2 separate regions of the Homo sapiens genome follow, and region 2 is reported to be linked to region 1. The links are microRNA targets in miRTarBase. Many come from high-throughput screens and were not tested one by one. Region 1 holds a microRNA gene; the other region holds the end of a gene's coding sequence.

The links. The annotated mature microRNA hsa-miR-940 reads AAGGCAGGGCCCCCGCUCCCC and lies in region 1 at 2,359-2,379, shown strand. An mRNA with a match to its seed (bases 2 to 7 or 8) in the 3' UTR can be bound and repressed. Matches are read on the target gene's strand: a 7mer-m8 pairs with bases 2 to 8, a 7mer-A1 pairs with bases 2 to 7 and ends in A, and an 8mer does both.
Region 2: miRTarBase lists GSTCD as a target of hsa-miR-940. Seed matches in the 3' UTR shown: 7mer-m8 at 2,937-2,943 and 7mer-m8 at 2,491-2,497.

What each region holds. Positions count from the first base shown.
Region 1 is chr16:2,269,448-2,273,797 of GRCh38, forward strand. It overlaps MIR940 (microRNA 940), which reads left to right and starts at 2,300; the gene lies at 2,300-2,393. MIR3677HG (MIR3677 and MIR940 host gene) reads left to right here. Exons shown (of 3, transcript NR_132988.1): 2 at 2,229-2,444; 3 at 3,540-3,625. MIR3677 (microRNA 3677) reads left to right here and starts at 1,266; the gene lies at 1,266-1,325.
Region 2 is chr4:105,844,912-105,849,261 of GRCh38, reverse strand. It overlaps GSTCD (glutathione S-transferase C-terminal domain containing), which reads right to left. Exons shown (of 12, transcript NM_001370181.1): 12 at 1,537-3,821. The coding sequence ends at 3,685. Among named protein-coding and RNA genes, the nearest start is that of GSTCD-AS1, 20 kb to the right of the region's middle.

The DNA.
Region 1 (4,350 bases):
GTTTTGTTCTCTGCTGTGCCTGTCAGGCAGTCGTTGCCCTGTGGTTATTTGTGGAGGGATTGACGGTGCGCTGAGCTTCAGACTTTGTCTGAACAGCTTCGTGGCAGCAAGGAAGGGAGAAGGGAACAGATCCAAGCCGATCTTTGGGAGGAGAGAACCAGCATGACTTGGAGACTTTAGATGTCAGAGCAAAGGACAGGGTGCAGCTTGGTGACCCGGAGTGGGTGGGTGGGTGAATGGATGGATAGATAGTGGGGATGTGGTCTGCCATCACTGCCCTCTTCCCTGTGTGGGAAGCCAGCTCTTGGTGACTTCCTGCCGAGACCCACTCCCTCTGGCCCTGTCCGAGGGTGTCAAGTGTGCCCTTGACCCTTCACCCTGGGCTAAGGGATGTCCAAGGAGTTGGGGACAAAGGCAGCTAGGAGGAGGAGCTACCTCCCGAGTCTGCTGCAGTAAGTCACCAGTGTGTTCCTGTGGGTGGAGGCTGGCAGGCCCATCAGTCTGGTTTGGGTACCCGTTGGATTTGGGTTTGATGACATGTAAAGTGAGTTAGAGTCTCTGCATTACTGTCACACCTGCTGTGCCCAGGCATGGAAGATTAAGTGGAACAGAGGGGCCGCCCCCCTGCTGAAGGGGCCCCAGAGTCGGCGCTAGGGGAGGGGGCAGCCTCGGTGGTCCAGGCAGGCATAGGCGGAATTCTCTGAGGTGGCATTGGAGTCCAGTGGTCAGAGGTGCTAAAAGGCCCCAAACCTAGAGCCCATGCCCAGGGCCCCACTGACACCTGGTGGGCAGGGGCAGCCTGGTGACCCCACATGACATGGGTGGGCGTGACGCAGCACCAGCTGGGCCGACAGCCCTCCCCCTGCTGGTTTTTAATGCTCTGCAGTAATGTCATTTGGCCTGCGAATAAGCTTTCACACATTTTATATTAAATCTACAAGTATGATTTATTCAGGCACTTACGAATTTAATCAAATTTGTTTCTAAATATTACTGATTTTTGTTATCAAATGTGCCATCAGCTGTTGAGCTTTGAGAATTGAGCATCCTGGCTTTTGCCATTTTGAGGATCAGCAGAAGCATGTCTGGAAGAAATGTGAGAAAATAAAACTCAGGAGCCTACCCCCACCCTGCCCTTCCAGGAGCTCAGCCCCAGAGCCAGGCTGCTAAGGCCATGGAGGCTGAGGGCAGTGGAGCTGGGGTTTCTGGAGCCTCAGGGGCCCTGGTTTGCTGGAAGGGCAGGCAGGGCTTCATGGAGGGCATTAGGCAGTGGCCAGAGCCCTGCAGTGCTGGGCATGGGCTTCTCGTGGGCTCTGGCCACGGCCCTGAGCTCCTCCCCTTACCTTCCCAGAGCGGAGGGTCACCTGCTGAGCTGGGCACGGGCTTCTCGTGGGCTCTGGCCACGGCCCTGAGCTCCTCCCCTTGCCTTCCCAGAGCGGAGGGTCACCTGCTGACAGTTTGGGGCGGCTCTGTCTTTGAGAGCATGCCCTCATGAAGGCAGAATGTCCTCCCTGCCTCCATCCTCTGTGGCCCGGTGGCTCCTGCAGTGCCTGCCCTCAGAGGCTGGTGGCCTGGGACACAGGGATGAGGATGGGCTTGGTGGTGCTGCAGGTCACAGTGGGTCATGAAGGAGCTTTGGGGGTGTTGCATTCTCTGGTAAAGCACAGCAAGGGAGCCCTTTTACCCACTACTAAAACCTGGCTCTGCACTGAGGCCATGCGCAGCCCAGTCAGGTGGACGAGGGGGTAACGACTGGACCGTGGGGAGGCATCAGAGGAGGAGCTGCTGAGAGGCGGGTCACCACAGCCTGGTGCCTGTCTGGAGAGGGTGGGGCTGGGGGAGGTGCTGGCCAGGTCCATGGGGGTGGCCAGGCTGGGTCTGAAAGGGCCTTGCGCTGGTGTGGGGTGAGCTTGGTCTGTTGGGAGAGTATGCAGTTCATTGGGGCCTCCCTGGCTCCAGGTTTGCATGTCTGAGGAGTGGGTATCATCAGGGCCTGGGGCCTCTCCAGTGGGCATGTCTGAACTCTCCCAGGGTTGGGAGCCTGTGCTCATCACAAGCTCAAAGCACTCCATTTCTGCTACCATGAAGTCAAGGATGGTGACTGTGAGCCGCCTGGGACCTGAGCTGCCTGGGACTGTGACTGAGGCACCCGGGGTGCCTCTTAGGGCCTTGGGTTTGGGCCCATGGCTAGATGAGCCTTGGTGATTCTGTGGTATTGCCTGGGCCAGGTGGACCCAGGGGCAGCTGCGGCTAGTCCATTTGGAGCTCCTTCAAGCCGAAGCATCCAACACCAGTGTCTGTGAGGTGTGGGCCCGGCCCCAGGAGCGGGGCCTGGGCAGCCCCGTGTGTTGAGGAAGGAAGGCAGGGCCCCCGCTCCCCGGGCCTGACCCCACTGCTTCAGCCCCCTCCTGCCTGCCTACAGCCTGGCCTCGAGGGCCCATCAGGTGAGGGGACCCCACCTGCACCACCCCGTCCTACCTCCTGGAGGAGGCCTTGCCCCTGACAGGCAGCCTCCAGCCCTCCCACCCTGATCCCTGTGTGGGATGGCCAGAGCATGCCCAGCATGCTGGGGTTCGGCGGTGGGGGGCATCTGGAGGGAGGGACATGTCAGTTCGGGGAGGGATGAGCAGCCTAAGTGACTGCAGTGCTGGGCCATCTCCTGCATGGTGGAGCTCCCCTCGAGCCGCCTGTCTGCAGGGGGCTCTGGCCAGTAGTGCAGCCGGGCAGGGTCTGTACGGCACAGGCTGCACCAGCCTCCATGCAGACCAGTCTGTGTGGGAGTGGGGGTCTCAGAGGGCCCAGCCGGCCTATGCCATGAGCATGGTGCTGGCCCAGAGGGGGAGCTGAACAGCAGCTGGGTCGGTGCGTTACCTGGTGGGGCAGCAGACAGCAGCTGCCCTGGCTGGGGTTCAAGCCCCGGGCTGGCCTGGTGGAATCCCCTCTCCGTCACCCCCAGGTTCTGTTCTTGCAGGTGTCAGGCCTGGGGCCTTGAGACAGACCTGCAGTCTCCACCACAGCCACAGTGGGTGGGGTCTGGGTCCTCACGGAGGTGATCCTCCACCCCCACACCTACCTTGTGCATGGCAGTGGTGTCTCCTGGAGCTGGTGAGACCCCACCTCACTCAGGAAACCCCCCAGACGCCCCCAGGCAGAAGTGGCCATACTCCAGGGCCTGCATCCCTGTGCCCCACAGTGCGCCCTGGCCGGTTGGTTGTAGGAACTCAGAAAAGCAAAGCAAACAGGATGGTTCCCTGCTGGACACATTACATTCCCTGCTGGACACATTTCTATTGCAGATCTTTAGTCCAGGATTCCAGGGTAGCCAAGGTCACCTGAGTCCTGGGGACTCTGGGCCTGGTCTCTGAAAGCAGCCAGTAAGACAGAGATGGGAAACCCAGCAAGATGGAGTGAGCCAAGGGCACAGTTGGGTCCAGGCGCAGCAGGGAGCTGCCTGGGGGTGACACACACTTGACGGAGGCCACTGCACACACCCTACCCCGGCCTGAACTTGAGCACTTCCTTTTTTTTTTTTTTTTTAGATGGAGTCTCACTGTAGTCCAGATGGAGTGCAATGGCGTGATCTCGGCTCACTGCAAGCTCCGCCTCCCCGGTTCACGCCATTCTCTTGCCTCAGCCTCCTGAGTAGCTGGGACTACAGGTGCCCGCCACCACACCCGGCTAATTTTTTTGTATTTTTAGTAGAGACGGGGTTTCACCGTGTTAGCCAGGATGGTCTTGATTTTTCGACTTCATGATCCGCCTGCCTCGGCCTCCCAAAGTGCTGGGATTACAGGCGTGAGCCACCATGCCCGGCCAAGCACTTCCTTGAACACAGAGGTGACCATGAGGAGGGAGGCGTGAACCAGGATGACGGGGCAGCAGATGGAGCCTGCCTCCCTGAGACCTCAGGTGACCGAGTGCTGGACTGCCTCCTCCTGCCTACATGGCTGAGAAATAAACTTCTTTTTCAAACCACTGTGACCTGGGGTTTTCTGATACCCTCAGCAAGCCTGTTCCTGTGGCCTGGTGTGGGTCCCCTGACCTGTGGCCTGGGCTGCCTGTATCCGGCCTGCCCCTCTGCTCCGCTGTAAACCTGTGATGGCAGTGGAGGGGCTTGGCCTGGGCCCGCCCCACCGCGAGGTCTTCCCCTCTCCGAGTTCTGGGTGTGGTTTCAGTTGAGCCACGCCGTTGGACTGGGCCGGCCTGGAGGACAGAAGGCACAGGCTCTTCCACATACCTGGCTCGTGGCCCATGGGCCGTCTGCTCACGGGAGCCCTGCACCAGGCCATGCAGAGCAGTGAAGTCAAAACCTCGTTTCCCAGGTCTAAGGTGAACTGGGAGCAGGGCAGG
Region 2 (4,350 bases), not on the chromosome of region 1:
TAGCCATTAATAATTATACTCCTGTTTCTGAGTCAGGCTCAAAAGTCAATGAAAGATGAGCTGTGGTTTCTAATATTATTACAACCTTCGGAGAGATAGATCAGTGAGCAGTAGCCTTGCATTTGATGGACAAAGGTGAGGGTAAGATCAGGTCACTTGTTGGGCTTTTATCATTGCAACAATCTTCCTGCTCCCTGCATCCAACTCTTTTCATTTGCCCTGGCTGGGAAGAAGCATTGGCAAGGATTTACATAGAAAAATAATGCCCGAAGAGCAATCACAATACCCATATCTCTTACTAGCCGCAGACATCACAGCTGGAGAATGCCATGCCAAGATCAAGCATGGGAGAGCAATGGGGTCCCCTTTCTATTTTTCTTTTTTTGAGACAGGGTCTCACTGTGTCACCCAGACTGGAGTGCAGTGGCACGATCTCAGCTCACCACAACCTCTGCCTCCCAGGCTCAAGCGATTCTTCTGCCTTAGCCTCCCTAGTAGCTGGGATCACAGGCATATGCAACCACCACCAGGCTTATTTTTGTATTTTTAGTAGAGACAGGGTTTCACCACGTTGGTCAGGCTAGTCTCAAACTCCTGACCTCAAGTGATCCACCTGCCTCGGCATCCCAAAGTGCTGAGATTACAGGCGTGAGCTACCACGCCCGGCTCCCCATTCTATTTTTGTTCTCCATACTCATCAGATAGGCTTTTTGTTTTTGGTGGTGGTGGTGGGGGGGTGTACCTTGAGTCACCTCGGGAGGACTGAGAAGACTACTCTGGATGGTAGACATTTTATAACAGATACCTAATTCCAGGGAGGTCAAGTCTCAGAGCAGAAGGATGAATGACATTAAGCTAGTGGGAGGGGTAAAAGGAGGTTATTCTAAATACAGGGAACATCATGTAAAAAGCTCAGGGTAATAACATCAAAAAAATAAAATCATAATAAATAAAACAAATCTTCTACACAGAAAATTACAAAATGTTTCTGAGTAATTAAAGGAGACCTAAACACATGCAAAGATATCTTCATAGATTATAAGATTCAATCTTGTTAAGACATTCATTTTCCTCAAATTGATCTAAAGAGAACAGGCAATATCAAAAATCCCAGCAAGCTTTTTTGGTAAAATTTTAAAAAGAAATTGATAAGTCAATTCTACGATTTATCTGGGGATACAATGGATCCAGACAGCCAAAATAATCTAGAGAATGAAAAATAAAATTGGGAGACAAACTACCTGATTTCCAGATTTACTATAAAGCTACAGCAATCAAAACAAACAGATTAATGGAAAAGACTAGAGAATTCAGAAATAGAACCATACATATAGATGAACTGATTTTCAACTGAGGTGCCAAGGCAGTTCAATGAAGAGAGGAAGGGATTTTTATTTAATGATGCTGAAACAACTATATATTCCTCAAAACCTACCTGCCTTTATATGTGAGTTTGATTTGAGATCGATCATAGACCTAAATGTAATAAGCTAGGATCATAAAGTTTCTACAAAAAAAATCTTAGGAGAAATCTTATAACCTCAGAGTTCGTAAAATTTATTAGAAAGAACACAGAAAATATTAATCATTAAAGTAAAAGGGTAAGTTAAATCTTCATCACAAGTAAAACATTCATTATGAAAATAAGTAGGTAAGCCACAGACTGGAAAAAATATTCTCAATGTGTTTACCTGACAATATTTAAGGGGAATATTCTATATCTGATTCCAGTGATGGTTACATGTATATATACAGTTGTCAAAACATCTCAAATGAATACTTAAAAATCTGTTATTGTATTGTATATAAATTAAACCTCACTTAAAAGAAGAAAGTCCACAATAAAAGAGCATGTTGTTTTCTATAGGCACAAATGACTAAAATACTCAGGGCTAATGATTAATTCTTTTTAAAAATTTTATCCCAGAAAACACGATTCCAATATGTCTCCCACCCCCACCCATACTGCCCTGTAAAATATTCCTATATTTTAATCCATAGTGATGATCAATGATAGTGCTTTCTCCTCATGATACATGTTACACAGGGGTTGAAAACATTAAAATAAATCTCAAATGGAATAAATTGGGACATGTAAAATTTAAAGAATTAGCAGCATTGAGAAAGGATGCATCATTTGTCTTTTAAAATGTTGGCTGGCAGAAAAAGAATTTAGGTAAGCTTCCATATTCTGCACTCCTCACACCACTAATAAGTTTTACCCAGAAATATATAAATAAAAATGATTGACATCTGAATAACAAATCCTGTGACAACACATTGTAGTATTCCATAAAGAACATGGCCAGGTGAGGTGGCTCACGCCTGTAATTTCAGCACTTTGGGAGGCTGAGGCGGGTAGATCACCTGAGGTCAGGAGTTCGAAACCAGCCTGGCCAACATGGAGAAACCCCATCTCTACTAAAATTACAAACAAAATTAGCCGGGCATGGTGGCAGGTGCCTATAATCCTAGCTACTCGGGAGGCTGAGGCAGGAGAATGCAGAGGTTGTGGTGAGCCAAGATCGAGCCACTGAATTCCAGCCTGGGCAACAAGAGTGAAACTCTGTCTCAAAAAAAAAAAAAAAAAAAAGCTTAACTAATTCTTTAATCTTTTTCTTCTAGATGATCTACTTCCATAGGCAAAACATTATGTCTTTTGCAACTCATCTTTGAATTGAAAAGAAACTAGGCCAAGGTCTTGAAAATACTGGATCCTCAATAATTACTTATAAACTTAAATGTATTAATCAATGTACTTATTGTTAAAATGTATGTCCAAATTCCACATTCCCGTAATAGGAAATTTATGGCAATTATTTAATAATTTGAACCAGTGACAATCTCATTTGGTAATTTATGGGAAATTTATTTATTTATTTATTTGTTTATTAATTCATTCATTGATTTATTTTGAGTCTGGGTCTCATTTTCCCAGGCAGGAGTGCAGTGGCGCTATCAAGGCTCACTGCAGCCTTGACTTCCTGGGCTCAAGTGATCCTCCCACCTCATTTTTTGGATTTTTTTGTAGTGCAGGCTGGTCTCGATATCCTGGGCTCAAATGATCCTCCCACCTTGGCCTCTCAAAGTGCTGGGATTATAGGCATGAGCCACCATGCCTGGCAGAAATATATTTAAAAGGAGTATATTAAATGCTATACAAGTTCAACTAACCCCAGCTTAAAAATAACTGTACTATAATTACCTGACTAGATTTTTTTAAAGTGATAGAAAAAGTACAATTGTTAAAAATATAAAAAACAAAAAACTCCACTGAGTCTACTTTCAGTTCCCATGTGAATATCTAAATAAGTATAAAATAAAGGCTGTAAGTGCGCTGTTTTGAATTAAACATCACATTGGCAAGATCAGAGGAGCTTGTGAAGTGAGAAGGAAATTGTTATTCCTGTGATGGAACCTCCACTAGTATTATTCTTTTGGCAGCTGAGACTTCAGGGGATTCTCACTATAAAAACCAGCAGTCCTTTAATCACACATTGTAAAGCATTTGTGATGCTTTGCAGGGAGCCTTTACTTCCAAGATTTCCCTGTTGCTTTCCTTCCTGAGCACAATAGGTTCAAGATGGCTAATGCTGTTTCCTAGTTATGCCAAGAACCTCCTGAATGCCACTGGGCATCCAACGTGAAGACGGATGGCAAAATATCAAATGTGAATATCTCATTTTAAATGGGGACTCCCACAATCATGTTATTTTTGGGAGAGCAGCTCTCTGGCTCCATGGATATCACTTGAACGGAGTATCCACATTCTTCTGCAGCTCTTGCTCGATCCAGATCCACCAAGCACATGCACTGTTTTCCTGAAACACAGTCAAATGGTATCATGAGACACCCTTTCACTAGCAGGACAGTTTCAGTTTGTTTAAGGGAATCTATATAGTGACAAAATCTGCAAGTACTATGGAGCATGCTTTGTACCCCTAAGTCTTGTTTAGTTTCTTTCAATTTACTTCTTGATCAATGTGGAAAGATGATGGTGACAAAAACATGGCACTTCATATATTTGCCTCTGCTAATAATTTAAAGAATGTTAACCTTTTCAGATGTATTTATAAGCAAATCTCAAATTAGAGCCTCAGACTGTATTTCCTACTTTGGTTAAAAATACATTTAAAGACCTTTTCTCTGCTTTCCCTATAAAACTAGATTATCTGTAATGTGGAAAAAAAATTTGTCTTTAAGAATATTTAAAATAACATGCTGATTAAGTGGTGTCTGAAAGACATTAGCTTTTCCAGCTGAAGTTTTTTAGGGCTATGAAGAAGTGAGAAATGAAAAATATTTAAGAAAATTCTCAATTACATGCCTTTTATTTCAGGTGGAAATGTA